Homo sapiens: one gene and its partner. The protein of the gene in region 2 interacts with the protein of the main gene of each other region in a biochemical or structural test. Each region holds a gene or a part of one and is shown on either strand. Other genes may lie near its edges.

Region 1 (7,028 bases), on a different chromosome or scaffold from region 2:
TGCAGCAACGATTTCTCACCAAATCACTACACAGGACAGCAAAGGGGTGAGAAGGGGCTGAGGGAGGAAAAGCCAGGAAACTGAGATCAGCAGAGGGAGCCAAGCATCAAAAAACAGGAGATGCTGAAGCTGCGATGACCAGCATCATTTTCTTAAGAGAACATTCAAGGATTTGTCATGATGGCTGGGCTTTCACTGGGTGTTAAGTCTACAAACAGCACCTTCAATTGAAACTGTCAATTAAAGTTCTTAAGATTTAGGAAGTGGTGGAGCTTGGAAAGTTATGAGATTACAAAATTCCTGAAAGTCCATTAGAAAAACCACAGGATGAAAAAAAAAAAAGGCCACAAAGAAGGCTTCAGAGGTCCCTGCTGGCCCAGGGACAGATACCTGTAGTGTCCAGCATTGCAGTGAACATGATCTACTTTCAAAGGCAGAGGGTTTAAGGGGAGGGTGGGTGGGAATGGTGGAGGCAAAGGCTCTCCCCATCCCCACCTCAGTTTTAGGTAGGGCTTTTAATTTAACCCAAAGACATCTCTCAACTTGGAGAGTAATTCAGTCCTCAACAGCGCCTCAAATCTGCTATGGCTTTGCAGCGCAGCAGCAAGAATGTTTAATATATAATAGATAAAAATTTCATCCAAAAAATTAAAATAAAATATTCTTGCAAACCCCCCCCCCAACACCAATTCCTATTCTAATGTTAACCTACCACTTGTGCTGTTAATACTTGACCATGTACTTAATTGGAAACCTATATCCAAAAGACTGAAACTGAATCTTCACCCCAAAATGAAAACAAAATAAAATGAATAACTTGAGGTTTATGGCATATAGTTTAGGTAAACACACATACGAGGAGAAAGGGGAAGAGGAAACAGAGGTGTCGGAAGCAAAGCTGAGTGACAGAACACATTCAGTCAGGGCAGATGTCTATACAAAGTGGAGTGGAACATCAGGAAAAGCTCCATATGGATTCATGTGCACATGTCTGGAGGCACCAGATCCCTCCATGGCAGATCTGTTGGGGACAGAAAATCTGTGAGTTTCCAGCAACTCAGTGTTCTTTGTGTGCAGTGGCGACAGCCACGATGCCATCTGCCACGCCAAATCCCTTCCCCAACAGCTGAGCAGTCTGAGACCAAGCCACTTCTGTTCCAGCTGGAGACAGCCAGAAAGACTTGGGCTGGGTCCCAGGTGAAACAAACTTTCTCCTTAAATTGATCTGTGTGTTTTGTTTAATCTAAGGTTAAGTTTGCCTTGCTGAGGACAGCAGGAGGGCTAGCCACCCATGCTGCTGACAATACAGTTCCCCACTATCATTGGGTCTCAAACTGTGCTACATATAGGCATCACCTGGGGGCTTTAAAAAACTCTTAATGCCTGGGTTCCACTCCCATGATTATGATTAACTGGTTTAGGGTTTGACCTGGGCATCAGGAAAGTCTTAAAAATTTCCCAGGTGACTCTCATGTGCAGTCCAGACTGAGAATAAACTGGTCATTCATAATGTTGAGTATACTGGGAAAATATCTCCAGTATTCATTCATTCACTCAACTTAAAACTTTCTGGGTTTGCCCTTGGATTTTCCTTCCAGACTCTTGCAAGAAGCTGAGACATTCTTTGGCAGTGGGTTGGGAGGGTTACTCGGGGTGACTTGTAGCCTTTATCCCTCTCTCCCCTCCCTCTACCTCATCAAGTTTACAGAAAGCCTGTTCCCAACCAGGAAAATAATTCCAAGGCTCCCTCGAGTACAGTTATGTTCAAAAAATGACTCAGCTCTCAAAGAACAGGAAAGGGATTTTGGCCTAGGTGCAGACCTCTGGGCAGACAAAGGCCCTGTAAAGTGCCAGGGATTCCCTCCCAGTAGCAATGACAGGTGAAGAAACCAGTTATCAAACTTAACCAGGCCTGTATTACCAAGGTGTGTGTGGTTCAAACAGAGAGTTTAAAAAGCCCCTCCACTTACAGATGTGCACAACAGGACCAGGTTACAAGTAGCTCTGACTGCCATCACAAATAGGATGGCAGCCATTTGTTGTGGCTTTCAAACAAAAGTGTCCTCACCCAGGCCTTGGCTGTGACCCTCTGGTTCCTATGGCAGGAGGGGAGCAAATAAAAAGGTCTGGGGCCAGTTGGAAGGAAGCCAGTAGCATTCATGTACTTAATGATTCTAACACTTACATGAAAAGTTACGTGCTACTAGGATACTGAGTTTAGTTCCTAAGAAATGAGGGTGGAAGAGGGGAAAATCAACAAACAGGGGCTCTGGTCCTACTTTGCCACTGCCTGGATGTGACCTTGAGTAAGGCCTTTCTCTCTGGCCCTGTTTCCTTACTGTTGCACAATAAAGCTGATGCAGAGGCCCCTAAGATCCCTTCCTAGAACTGTCTGATCTAAGAGCATCCTTTCAACTTCACAAGCATCCTCTGGCTTCATTTTTCCACTTCACTCACTGATAAGCTGGCCTGGGGGCCTCAAGTGTCCTGGGTGTGGACCCTGAGCAGGTGGACCGATGCAGGAATGCCTCCCTCATACCATCTAATAGGCAGTAACCACAAACCACAGTGAAGAGAGAGCCGCAGAAGCTAGGACATGATATTCATATCCAAAGGGCTTTTTTTTTCCCCCTCTAGCTTCTAGAAACACAGGGTAGAACAAAGTCATTCATTAAGAGTCTTATTTCCAAAGAACTAAAATGTTGGCACTACAAATTTGGCCTACATTTCCATAGTCCTCAATTCAGTTTTAATTTATAAACTACATAGAAAAACATTTAAACAGCTGCCATCTCCATGAGTTGAACTGGGAACATACACATGCCAATTCCTTTCCTTAGGGTGACCAATTTTTACATTCAAAGCATACACTAATAACACTGAAAGGATACTCAATACAGAAAGAATGCAGGGGGAAAAATAGCCTTGTGGTGTTTTTTGTTCTCTCTGCTACCCATCAAACGCTGGGCATAACATGGGAGGAGCAAAGGCAGTGAAGGGCCCTTCAGTATTCCATTTCCTTACCCAAGAACAGGGAGCTAAGGGAGGAGGCCATTCCTGTCATTCCAGTTTTAGAAGCTCCACATCGAAGACGAGAGTGGCATGTGGTGGGATGATGCCTGGGTGCCCAGTGGCACCATAGGCATAATCTGGAGATATAGTCAGTTTGGCTCTCTGACCCACACTCATCTGTGAAAAGAACAAGGAAGACAGACTCAGCTGGACACATGCCCCAACTGTCTCTGTAAGAAAAAGAGCTGTTTACCTAGGTGTTCCTTGGCCAGGATGGTATTGACTTTCCAGTGACTTTGCAGCTGCCCAGGCATCACCACCTCCTTGTGCAGGACTTGGAGGTTGGCAGTCATATTCCATCACCCCTGCATCTCACTCCAAGAAGCCCAATGGCAGTTCAAAACCCCTCCTGACTCTCAGAACGGTCAGGCCCTCAACCTTTCTACGCAAGTCTTAATGACTAATGCTAGGCAGGTAACATTCCAGATGTCTCACCACCTAGTCCCCTTCAGTGATCTGTCACTTAAAGGACATGTTAAGTGCCATCTATGCTCTTCTTGAAAAAGGAATACTCAACTTTGCTTTAAAAAAATATATACACAGGAAGTAATACTTGAGGGTAGTCTATTTTTTCTGTATTTTTTCTATTTATACTCTTTTACCCATATAGGAAAACTTCAAAAAAGACAATATGATTTTCTGGGCTACAAAATAGCATTTACTGAATACCATTTGTGAAAATATTGATATGCCTACAACAGAAAACATCTTTGGAAGGACATACCAGACATTTGCTGTGAGGAGAACAGTATGGATAGTGAGTGACCAGTAAGGAGAGATTTCTACTTTAAAAAATATATTTGTGTATATTTTCAGTTTCAAATTAAATACACAAATAAGTATAAAATATCTACTTTCTGAACAGTGAGCAGGTTCTCTGCAGTATTTCCATCCTTTGACTTATCTCTGCTTTTGGTCTCCATGTGTATGTTCCCGACTTTCCAACTCCACCAGACAGAGGATGAATAAAGAGGAAGCTCCAGGCTGTGAAGCGTCTAGTCCTTGCTCCCCTCAGAAGCTGGGACATGTTGGACCAAGGTGGTAAGGATAGTGAGGTATGGCTTTACCTTGTACAATTCAAAACAATCATATTCCTTGACTCAGCAATTCTATTTCCAGAATATTCTGCTAACAACTCAAAAGTCCATCACAGAAGGAGTGGTTTCATAGGCATATCCACACCAGGGATTAGTCATGAGAAATCATATAGTGGTGGCTTTAAATGTATTAACATGAAAAGATGTCCAAGATGGATGAAAGAAAGCTGCCAAAATGGTCCTTGTGGCAGGCAGGACTCCACGCCTGCAAACATGTAAAACCAAAACAATATCAAAAGGAAAGGAAAAGGGTCACAAGTCAATCTCCCCTTCTTCCTGTGTTTTTAACTCACTTGGTGAAAAAATATGCTATGAAGAATTTAAAAGATATTTTATGTAGATCTCAAACTACCCAGACTTCTCACAAATGACAGGGCTGTGACTGACCCCAAAATACCAGTTAAAGGGGGAGTCAGGCATCTGTCCAATACTCGACCATGCCTCTCCAAGCCTGGGAAGTGAAGTAGGCCGATAACACTATCTCGATGGCAGATACAGCACTCAGTACATACAACGCAGTGATTGTTCCAATGCTGGAGCAGTCACAGAAGATGGGTTGTGGTATGAACAATGGCTGGCATGAAAGATGGGGGATGGGCTACAGATCCAAGAGCCAGACAGACTAGGGAGACAGAGGCAAAAAGCTATGGTTGGCAAGGTTTCCCAAGGGAAGTAAACTACAAAGCCTCTTCCTCACACTGCCAACCCTCTGCCCTGCAGGAACAGAAACCCAGACACCTGGGAGTGGGATGGCTTCAAGTTCCTGAAAGTTGAGCAGTTTATTTGGAGATAAATCAGTGATATTTTATAGAGGAAGTAGAGCAATGTGTATTCTGGAAAAGAGAGAGACAGAAATCTGTCTTTTCATCTTGGTTAAATTTCTAATTCTCCTGGGTGAGAGGGAAGCAGACTAATTACCCATCATGCAGAGCCTAATTATAAAGTTCCTTGGGTCTCAGGTCACTGAAAAACATCCCTTTACCTGGTTAGAGCCAAGAAAAAATTCCTAGGTTTGATGGAAAGACAGAATCCAACTAAAATTTGGCAACCCTGGGTCCCTATTGTCTCCTGGGAATTTTGTAGTGTTGGCAGAACAAAAGCTGTTTCCACAAATGGGGAGGAAAGAGATTAGGAAACACACTCAAGACAAACGAAATGACTTTCTCCATAAGTATGACGTCTCAGAAGTGGTCTCACACAATATGGGTAATAGATAAATACAAATTAAAACCACTGATATCATGTTTTACTCTTATTGTCCAGAGGCCAAAGATTTAACAATATACTGTGATGCTGGGGCTGGGAGGAGATTGCACCTTTATAGCCTGGTGGTGGCAGTCCAGAGTGCAACCCCTAGAGATGGTAACTTGACAAGACCTCTCAAAAACACTACACACAGCTTTTGAGCCCCTCATCCCACTTCTGAGAGTAAGTCCTATGGCAACATGTGCACACGTGGAAAATGAAGTCTGTACAAGGTGAGTTACTGCAGCATTGTTTATAATAGCAAAATACTGGAAATGACTCAAATACTCATTAATAGGGCACTAGCCAAGTAAATTATAGCACACTTACATAAACGAATACTAGGCAGCTGTAACAGAGCTTACTCCTCATTTTTTCTTTCTTTTTTGAAATGGAGTTTCGCTCTCGTCATCCAGGCTGGAGCGCAATGGCACAATCTTGGCTCACTACAACCTCCGCCTGCTGGGTTCAAGTGATTCTCCTGCCTCGGCCTCCCAAGTAGCTGGGATTACAGGCACCTGCCACCACGCCCGGCTAATTTTTGTATTTTTAATGGAGATGGGGTTTCGCCATGTTGGCCAGGCTGGTCTCGAACTCCGGACCTCAGGTGATCCATCCATCTTGGCCTCCCAAAGTGCTGGGATTACAGGAACTCCTGACCTCAGGTGATCCACCCATCTTGGCCTCCCAAAGTGCTGGAATTACAGGCATGAGCCACCGCGCCCAGCCTACTCCTCTTTTATGTAGTGGTATTGCAAGTGTCAAAAATGCATTAAGTGAAAAAGTAAACTGCAAAACAGTATGTGTGTGAAAGCAAGAAAAAAGTTATGTTTTTATATGTGCTTAAACCACAGTACAAGAAACATTAACAACAGGAGCTTCTTGTGGGGGTATTGGTCAGATGGGATGGCATGAGGGTGAGACTTTTCACTTTTTTTATTTTTGAACCGTATAAATATGCCACCTATAAAAAAATATAAAAGGTAAATACTAGAAAGCAAAACAAAACAAATGAGAGAGCATACCTGGGCAACCCCTTCTTCCCAGCCTCGGATCACCTCCTGCTTGCCTAGCATAAACTTAAAGGGCTTGTTTCTGTCCCGGGAGGAATCAAATTTCTTTCCATCTTCAAGCATCCCTGTGAAAAAGACGACTGTAACATGAGCAGCAGAGTAATGACACAAGACAAGTCAGAAACCAGCAGCAGAGCACTCATCAGAGATGCCAGTGCTGAAGAGTCTGGCAGGAACTGCAGTATCTAGGGAGGGTTTCCTGTGACCTCACTGGACATCTAAGGAGTTGCGACAGTCCTACTCCAGACCTGTGAATGCTCTTCCCTGACTCCAAGCAATAACTCGACTACAAAAGGACCCCGCGTACCAGAGATGAGCGGCAGTCCACCTTCTTCTGGAGATGGGGAGTATAAACTTCCTCCTGCCCTGACTCTCCCAGCACCCCGTGGATTTTCTCCCCAGCTAAAAATAACTGTGGTCCCTCGAGGTGCACACTATGTCTAGAAGTCACACACAGTGCAAGAAGCAATATTCCTTCCCAAAATCCCCCATCATCTTTCACATATAATGTGTGTATATATTGCTCCTCCATTGTTCAGTG
Region 2 (7,028 bases):
TCTTCTATTCTCAATAAACTATTCTCCAGCAGCTCCTACAGATTAAAATATATGCAGATACATATATAGTGAAGTCAACAGCTGTTATTTGTTGACATAACTATGTATTTAAGTTATAATGGGAACAAACATCTTACCAATCCTTTGGAGATAACAGACTCTTCTGTTCTGAAAAATAATATTAAAATTTATCATGAATTTGTAAACTATTTTAGAATGATACTTCATCTTATGAAAAATACAGCAAAAACTGAAATTTTAACACTTTTAAAATGCATATCATTAAGGAGAAATTCTGTTGAAGAACTTGATCAAAAGTTTTAATCCATCTTTGATCTGTCTTTCGGTTTGGCTAAGGCCACTAAATCTGACCAAAATAAATCTACTCAGGGATTATTTCCTAACTTCAAAACAATAGATCTTCAACAGCAAGTGCTAAGAAACTAACTAAACCTGATATAACCAATGCTATATATTCCAGTTGATTATTCTGTAAAATCTTTCCAATTCTTTTTATTCAAAAAAAGACTCAATGACTCTGCAGTTTGGAAATCTCAAGAATTTAGGACTTAGATTCAAAACAATACATATTATCACTGTATGAATAACAGAAACTAAATGTAATGAATATAAAATCATTAAAACATACATAATACAGCAAATTTACAGAATTAGTAACTACTTGTGCCAGGAGACCCTTGGAAATTCCTGCCTTGTATGCTGAAGCTTTGGACATTGCCATGTTACAAATCTTCCTTCACCTGGTAAGAGATGGGACTGATAAACTGTCACTAGTGTTCATAGAGGATAATTGCAAAGCCCTAACTGATCTCAGGGGATAATTTAAACATGTTACATGTTATAGTGAAAGAAAACAAAGCATATAGTTCTGTGAAATTCTTTAATTTCTGTCTAGAAATTATGTATACCTGTTACTCTGTAATTTCCTTTTTTTTTTTTTTTTCTTTTGCGACAGGGTCTTACTCTGTTGCCCAGGCTGGACTGCAGTGGCATGATCTCTGCTCACTGCAGCCCAGACCTCCCAGGCACAGGTGATTCTTTCACCTCAACCTCCCAAGTAGCTGGGACAACGGGCAGGCGCCACCACTCCTGGCTAATTTTTTCTATTTTTTGTAGAGAGAGAGACTGGTTTCGAACTCCTGGGGTCAAGCAATCCTCTCGCCTTGGTCTCCCAAAGTGCTGGGATTATAGGCGTGAGCCACCGTGCCTGGCTTTTTTTTTTTTTTTTTAAATAGAAAGTCCTGCTGCTTAGCACCTCAAATGAGAAAAGTTGTAATTGAATGACATCACTGTCAATAATCTAAATTATAAAAGGTGGAAGTCAAGACACCTCCTTCCTTTTGATGCAATTCACAGACTGTGTCCATGAAGGAAAAATACGGAAGAACTTCTTTTATTGACTGCCCTTCCTTAAGATGGAGGAGGATGCAGTGGGGTAGAGGTGTTTTAATTTACCAACTTTTGGAGTAAGAGAAGAAACCTTAGAAACAGATGACTGTAAAAGCCCTTAAGACAAAATCTTAATACTGTCTTAAGTTTAAAATAAAACAGACTTTGGTGTAAAACCTCCTTGACTCATTTCTGTCTCTCTCGTGAATTATTTGCCTCGCTGTTTTATAAAATAACCAATTAATTAATTAGAGCTTAGCAAAGAAAAGGCAGTCTCCGCTGATCTTAACAAGGACTATTTTAACACTACTATTTCATTTTGAGATACCATCTAAACGATCTTACCTTTGCAAAAAGACTTCAATGTGCCCCATATTAAACTGCAAAAGGTACAATGGGCTAAAATAGAAACAAAACAAATATATATATTATACACACACACAGAGATATGTACACACATACATATTGTTATGGGTTGAATTGTATCTCCCCCAAAAAAGATATGTTGGAGTCCTAACCTCTAGTACCTCAGAATTTGACCTTATTTGGAGATAGGGTTATGGAGGTAATCAATTTAAAATGAGATTATTAGGGTGGGCCCTAATCCAATATGACTGTTGTCCTTATGTAAAAGGAAAGTTTGGAGACAGACACAAGCACACAGGGAGAACAGCATACGAACATGAAGGCAGAGAACAGGATAATGCATCTACAAGCCAAAGACCATCAAAGATTGTGAGCAAATCACCAGAAGCCAGGAGAGAGGCATGGAGAAGATTCTCCTTCACAACCCTCAGAAGGAGCATCCAGAACTATGAGACAAACTATTTCTGTTATTTCAACCATCCAGTTGGTAGCACTTTTTTACAGGAGCCCTAGCAAGTTAATATACATATGCTGTATAAGTTATTTTGGTGATAGAATGTGATGCTTAAGAGTATAGGCTCTGGGGTCAGACAGAGCTATCTGCATCCCACCTATGCCACAAAGTAGTTAGATCTTCAGTGGTATATTAACTTGTCTAAGCCTGTTATTTTCATCTGTAAAATGAGAGAATGCTCTATTTCACAGGCTTATTATAAGGATGAGATAATGCATATAAAGTTATTAGCATAATGTTTCATACATGGTGAACATGCAAATGATAGCCAGTATTTCAACATTTACATACGAATGTACTCCTAGCTATATTCATATATAAATGCACAAACTCACACAAATACCCAATGCCTATAAGACAAATACACAATCCTTATTATCATAGAACTCAAAGTCCAGAAGATATTACATTATAAAATTATATATTTTAAAAATAATTTTAATAAACATTGTGGGAAAAGAAGACAAGGTCAAGGTAATTATAATAGAAGGATTCAACCTAAATTGGGTGGTGAGTGAAGGCTTTCTTCAGAAAGTGACATTTAAGGATAAAGAGAATTTTAAGCATATACAAAGGCCAAATAGGAAAATTCATAACATTTAAACTAGAAACAAAAGAAGGTCTGTGTCACTGGAGCATAGTAAACAAGAGGAAAGGTGGTAGGAGATGAATCAGGTCAATTAAGCAGGGACCAGACCAGGCACAAGTTTGTCTCAGAAGTTATGCAAAGGCATTAAGACTTTATTCTTAAAGCAATAAAAAGCCACTGGAGGGTTTTCAGTAAGGGACTTCTTTTAAGGCTTCGCTTTCTGGTATGTTGAGAATGTGTTAAATTAAAAGGAAGTAAAAGTAGATATATAAATCCACTCAGGATTACAGCAGTAATCCAGTGAAAAGATGATGATACCCCTGGGTACCTGGCTAGTTCCAGGGTGGTCTCAAAAGCTTCAAAACCAAGCCCTGTTTATCATCTTCTGATTCTTGTCCCCACCATTCCCTTACACCTATTTCAACACTCCCCACTTTCATTACTTGTCTACTGCTATCTTTAACAGATTATAGCTGGGATCATTCTTATTAAAAATAGCCTTTACTATTTATTTAAAATGTATTAGTGTGTTAATATGCATATATTGGACATTAGATAAATGAGAATTTTATGAAATTCCTTTTAGAATACATGAATAAACCAAACACTAACTCTTACCTTAAGACCATTGGAAGCTGATCAATATGGATGCCCTGTACAAATACTAGATATGCCAGAGAAGCCATTGAGTCTGCTAACTGTTTATTTTCTTCTTCTTCAAATTCAAGGTAATTCCAAGTTCTCTTTTTCCTTCCATGATTAAAAATCATTTTGGGGAAAGGGTGTCCAATTGCTGATAAAAAACCCTATGAAATGGATAAAAAAGGAAACCATAGCACACAGACTCTAAAATGCCCCCCACCCCGTGTATTCAAACTCCACATTCTCACCAAGGGGAGGTGTAATCACTCCCTTTGAGCGTGAGTGGGACCTATGAGACTTGCTTTCAACCAACAGAATGCGCCAAGATGTCACTCCCATGATTAGATTATATGACAAAAGTGAAGGGGTTTTTGCAGATGTAATTAAGGTCCCAAATCAGTAGATTTTGAGTTGGGTGGCCCTAACTTAATCAGGTATATTTTTAAAGGGGGTCCAGGCCTTCCCTGAGAGTCAGAAACTTTGCTCTCTGACTCTCTCCCTTGCTGGCTTTAAAGAACTAAGCTGCCATGTTATGAGAAGGCTCATGGACAGAACTACATGGCAAGGGACCAACTACAGGCAGCTCCTAGAAGCTAAATGTGGTCCCTGGCTGACAGCCAGCAAGAAAATGGGGACCTCAGTCCTACAGCTTAGAGGAAATGAATTCTGCCAGCGGAGGAAACCTGAAAGTGGATCTTTCCCCAGTTAAGCTTCTGATAAGACTACAGACCCAGTCAACAACTGGCCTGTAGCCCAATGAGACCCTGAGCAGAGGACCCAATTAAGCTGTGGCTGGACTCCTGATCCATAGAAACTGTGAGATAACAAAGGTATGCTGTTTTAAACTGCTAAGTTTGCAGGAATTTGTTATACAGCAATGAAAAACTAATACAGAAGCCAACAGCAAAATCGTATTTTACATAGCATTTTATACATCAGAAGTATTCTAAATTAATTCAGAATCATAGTTTAAAAAGTTTAAAATGATGAATTTTATGTATATTTCACCACAATTTTTTTTAAAAAAGTGCTTCAGGGATATTTGAGAGCAATCTGAAACGTGAGACATACAAATATATGAAGCAAGGGTAAAGCAACTAAGATGAAGAATACTCTAGGAACAATGCTCCACTAACATTGTGCCTGTAGAGAGTGGGATGCAGGAACGCTGGGCAGGGCAGCTGGGCCTGAGGAAACACTGTTGATCTCTCAGTCATCAGGGTTCTCATGTGAGACGAGAAAGAGAAGCATCCTTGCATGAGTGGGTAGGACCACAGGGCTAAATAAAGCTTTCCGCTCAGGAAACAAGATCACTCCTATGCCTCTTATACTGGTACTAATTCTAGCGTACCAGAAAGCACCTACCTTCAGAATCCACTGACATTGATTTTGAGTTTTGGCTCTACCATTTACTACTTGTGTGACACTGGATGAGCCATAAAATGACATAATACCTATGTCAAATATTTATCGAGCAGCTCCACAAAAAAAGCGTAAGAAAGTTAAAGTCACAACAAACTACAAGAGTTAAAAGGGAATGAATGACAAAAACAGCTAAAGCAGAATGAATAACTTCCACACAAGTCACTCTTTTATTCAATAAACACTTAAGTGCAAGGTGCTGGGCCTGACTTTGTGGGGAATTATAAAGCCAAGTATAAGTCTTTTCCAGCCTTCAGGGACTTAAAATCTGCTGATCCCAGATGGTTCCATTAGTCATTTCAGAATACAAAAAGGAACCATGGAAAATCATCCTCAGTCACAAGAGACTGCTATTCAGCGACCAGATGCTAAATATATACTGCTGCAGTGATTTTCAAAGCCATGCATTCTGGTTATAGCTACAAGACAAAAAGTTTATTGCACTCTGATTCCAAATGTCCTTAATCATGAAGCTCCATTTCTTTATTCAGCCAATGCTACATGTGTTTTTTCCAGAGTAAGGTAGCCCTGTTTTTTTTTTTTTTTTTTTTGGCGACAAGGTCTCACTCTGTCACTCAGGCTGGAGTGTAGTGGCATGATCATGGCTTACTGCAGCCTTGACTTCCCCAGGCTCAAGCAATCCACCCTCCTCAGTCTCCTGAGTAGCTAGGACTACTGGTACATGCCACCATGCCCGCTATTTTTTTTTTATTTTTTTTATTTTTTATAGAGATGGGGTTTCGCCATGCAGCCCAGGCTGGTCTTGAACTCCTGGGCTTAAGTGATCTGCCCACCTTGGCCTCCCAAAGGCCTGGGCCTACAAGCGGGAGCTACCGTGCCCAGCCTAAGATACCCTTTTTAAAACATTATTATATGCAACTAGATTCTACAGTGCTGCTCTGGATATCTGAGATCCAATCTGTTCCCAAATCTGGGCCTTCACTATCTATCCACACACCATCCAGCAGTCTTGCTCAGATCCAGGCTGTACCTGGCACCATACAATTTCTCAATATTCATGGCAGCTTTTGTCCTTTCAGAAATGTTCCTGTACTACAGCCTTTGGGACATTCTAGTAGTTCTGTACCAAAATAACTTGTACCAAAGTGAGGATGGCTGAGGCCTGTGAATCCCAACCACACCACACTTACCAGTACTTCTCCAGCACAGAACAGAAGACATCTCCTCATTTCATCTCCAAGCTGGTCTCACCTCTACTTCTAGACTGCTACGTGCATCCTTACTGCTGGCTCTTTCTACTTGCAATGTTCCTTCTACTGAGATTTTAGAACCACTCACCTACATCCTCAGTCTCTTCATAGGATGCTTGTTCTGCCTCACTGCTTTAACTAAACCTGTCTGATTTCTGGTGGGAGATGCTCATTCTCACACCTTTTATACCACAGGGCCTGGAATGCAGCTGTTGGGTAGAGGAGTACAGGTAGGGGCTTAGCACAGTATTGTAGTATTGGCTTTTTCTGTACTTTTCAACAAAAGCACATTTTCCTTTGATGCAGATAACATACTGTCCTTTTCTCTGTCATATGCTGACTTCCTGGTAATTTCCTGACATTCACTGAAGACTCTGGCACCTTCTCATAATCTTTTTCTCTACCCAATTCCTGCTATGATCCTGGGAAAATTCAATGTTCATGGAGATAACCCCTATAACAGGCTAGTCTCATGGTCCTTTATTATTATTAATTTATTTTTCAATCAAGCAACAAGTCATTGCATCCACTCTCATGGTTCTCAATTTCTAAATTCTAGTGACTTTTAGTTCTAATCCATTTCAGTACCTAATCCCATGCTGGATCTCTGAACATCTGGAACTATTCTGTATTTGATACTTTAAACTCCAATATCCCATTTTCTGACCAAAATCTGTCATCCTGTCTCTCCTAGCAATCTGCTTTTCTACTTCTGACTTCTCCAGTCCTGTGATTCCTACATTTTGACCTACCTAGGCATTCCCTCCTAACCCCCCTTCTTTCCCTATCCAACCTGAATCATGGATTATTGACCAGCTGAACTATCTGCACCCTGTATTTCCTTCAGCAGTATCTACCCAGTAAAATGCCAGCC

The links.
Region 1: the proteins of GLMN (region 2) and FKBP1A form a complex in vitro, tested with the Homo sapiens proteins (2 studies listed by BioGRID).

What each region holds. Positions count from the first base shown.
Region 1 is NC_000020.11:1,369,052-1,376,079, forward strand, and holds part of FKBP1A (peptidyl-prolyl cis-trans isomerase FKBP1A), read right to left. Parts: intron 6,553-7,028; coding exon 6,440-6,552; intron 5,648-6,439; exon of another isoform or gene 5,433-5,647; intron 4,128-5,432; exon of another isoform or gene 4,027-4,127; intron 3,190-4,026; coding exon 3,061-3,189; coding exon of another isoform or gene 3,025-3,060; exon of another isoform or gene 2,665-3,024; intron 1,022-2,664; coding exon of another isoform or gene 978-1,021; 3' UTR 1-977. UniProt on the Homo sapiens protein: Keeps in an inactive conformation TGFBR1, the TGF-beta type I serine/threonine kinase receptor, preventing TGF-beta receptor activation in absence of ligand.
Region 2 is NC_000001.11:92,267,968-92,274,995, forward strand, and holds part of GLMN (glomulin), read right to left. Parts: intron 3,686-7,028; coding exon 3,498-3,685; intron 1,810-3,497; coding exon 1,756-1,809; intron 169-1,755; coding exon 138-168; intron 36-137; coding exon 1-35.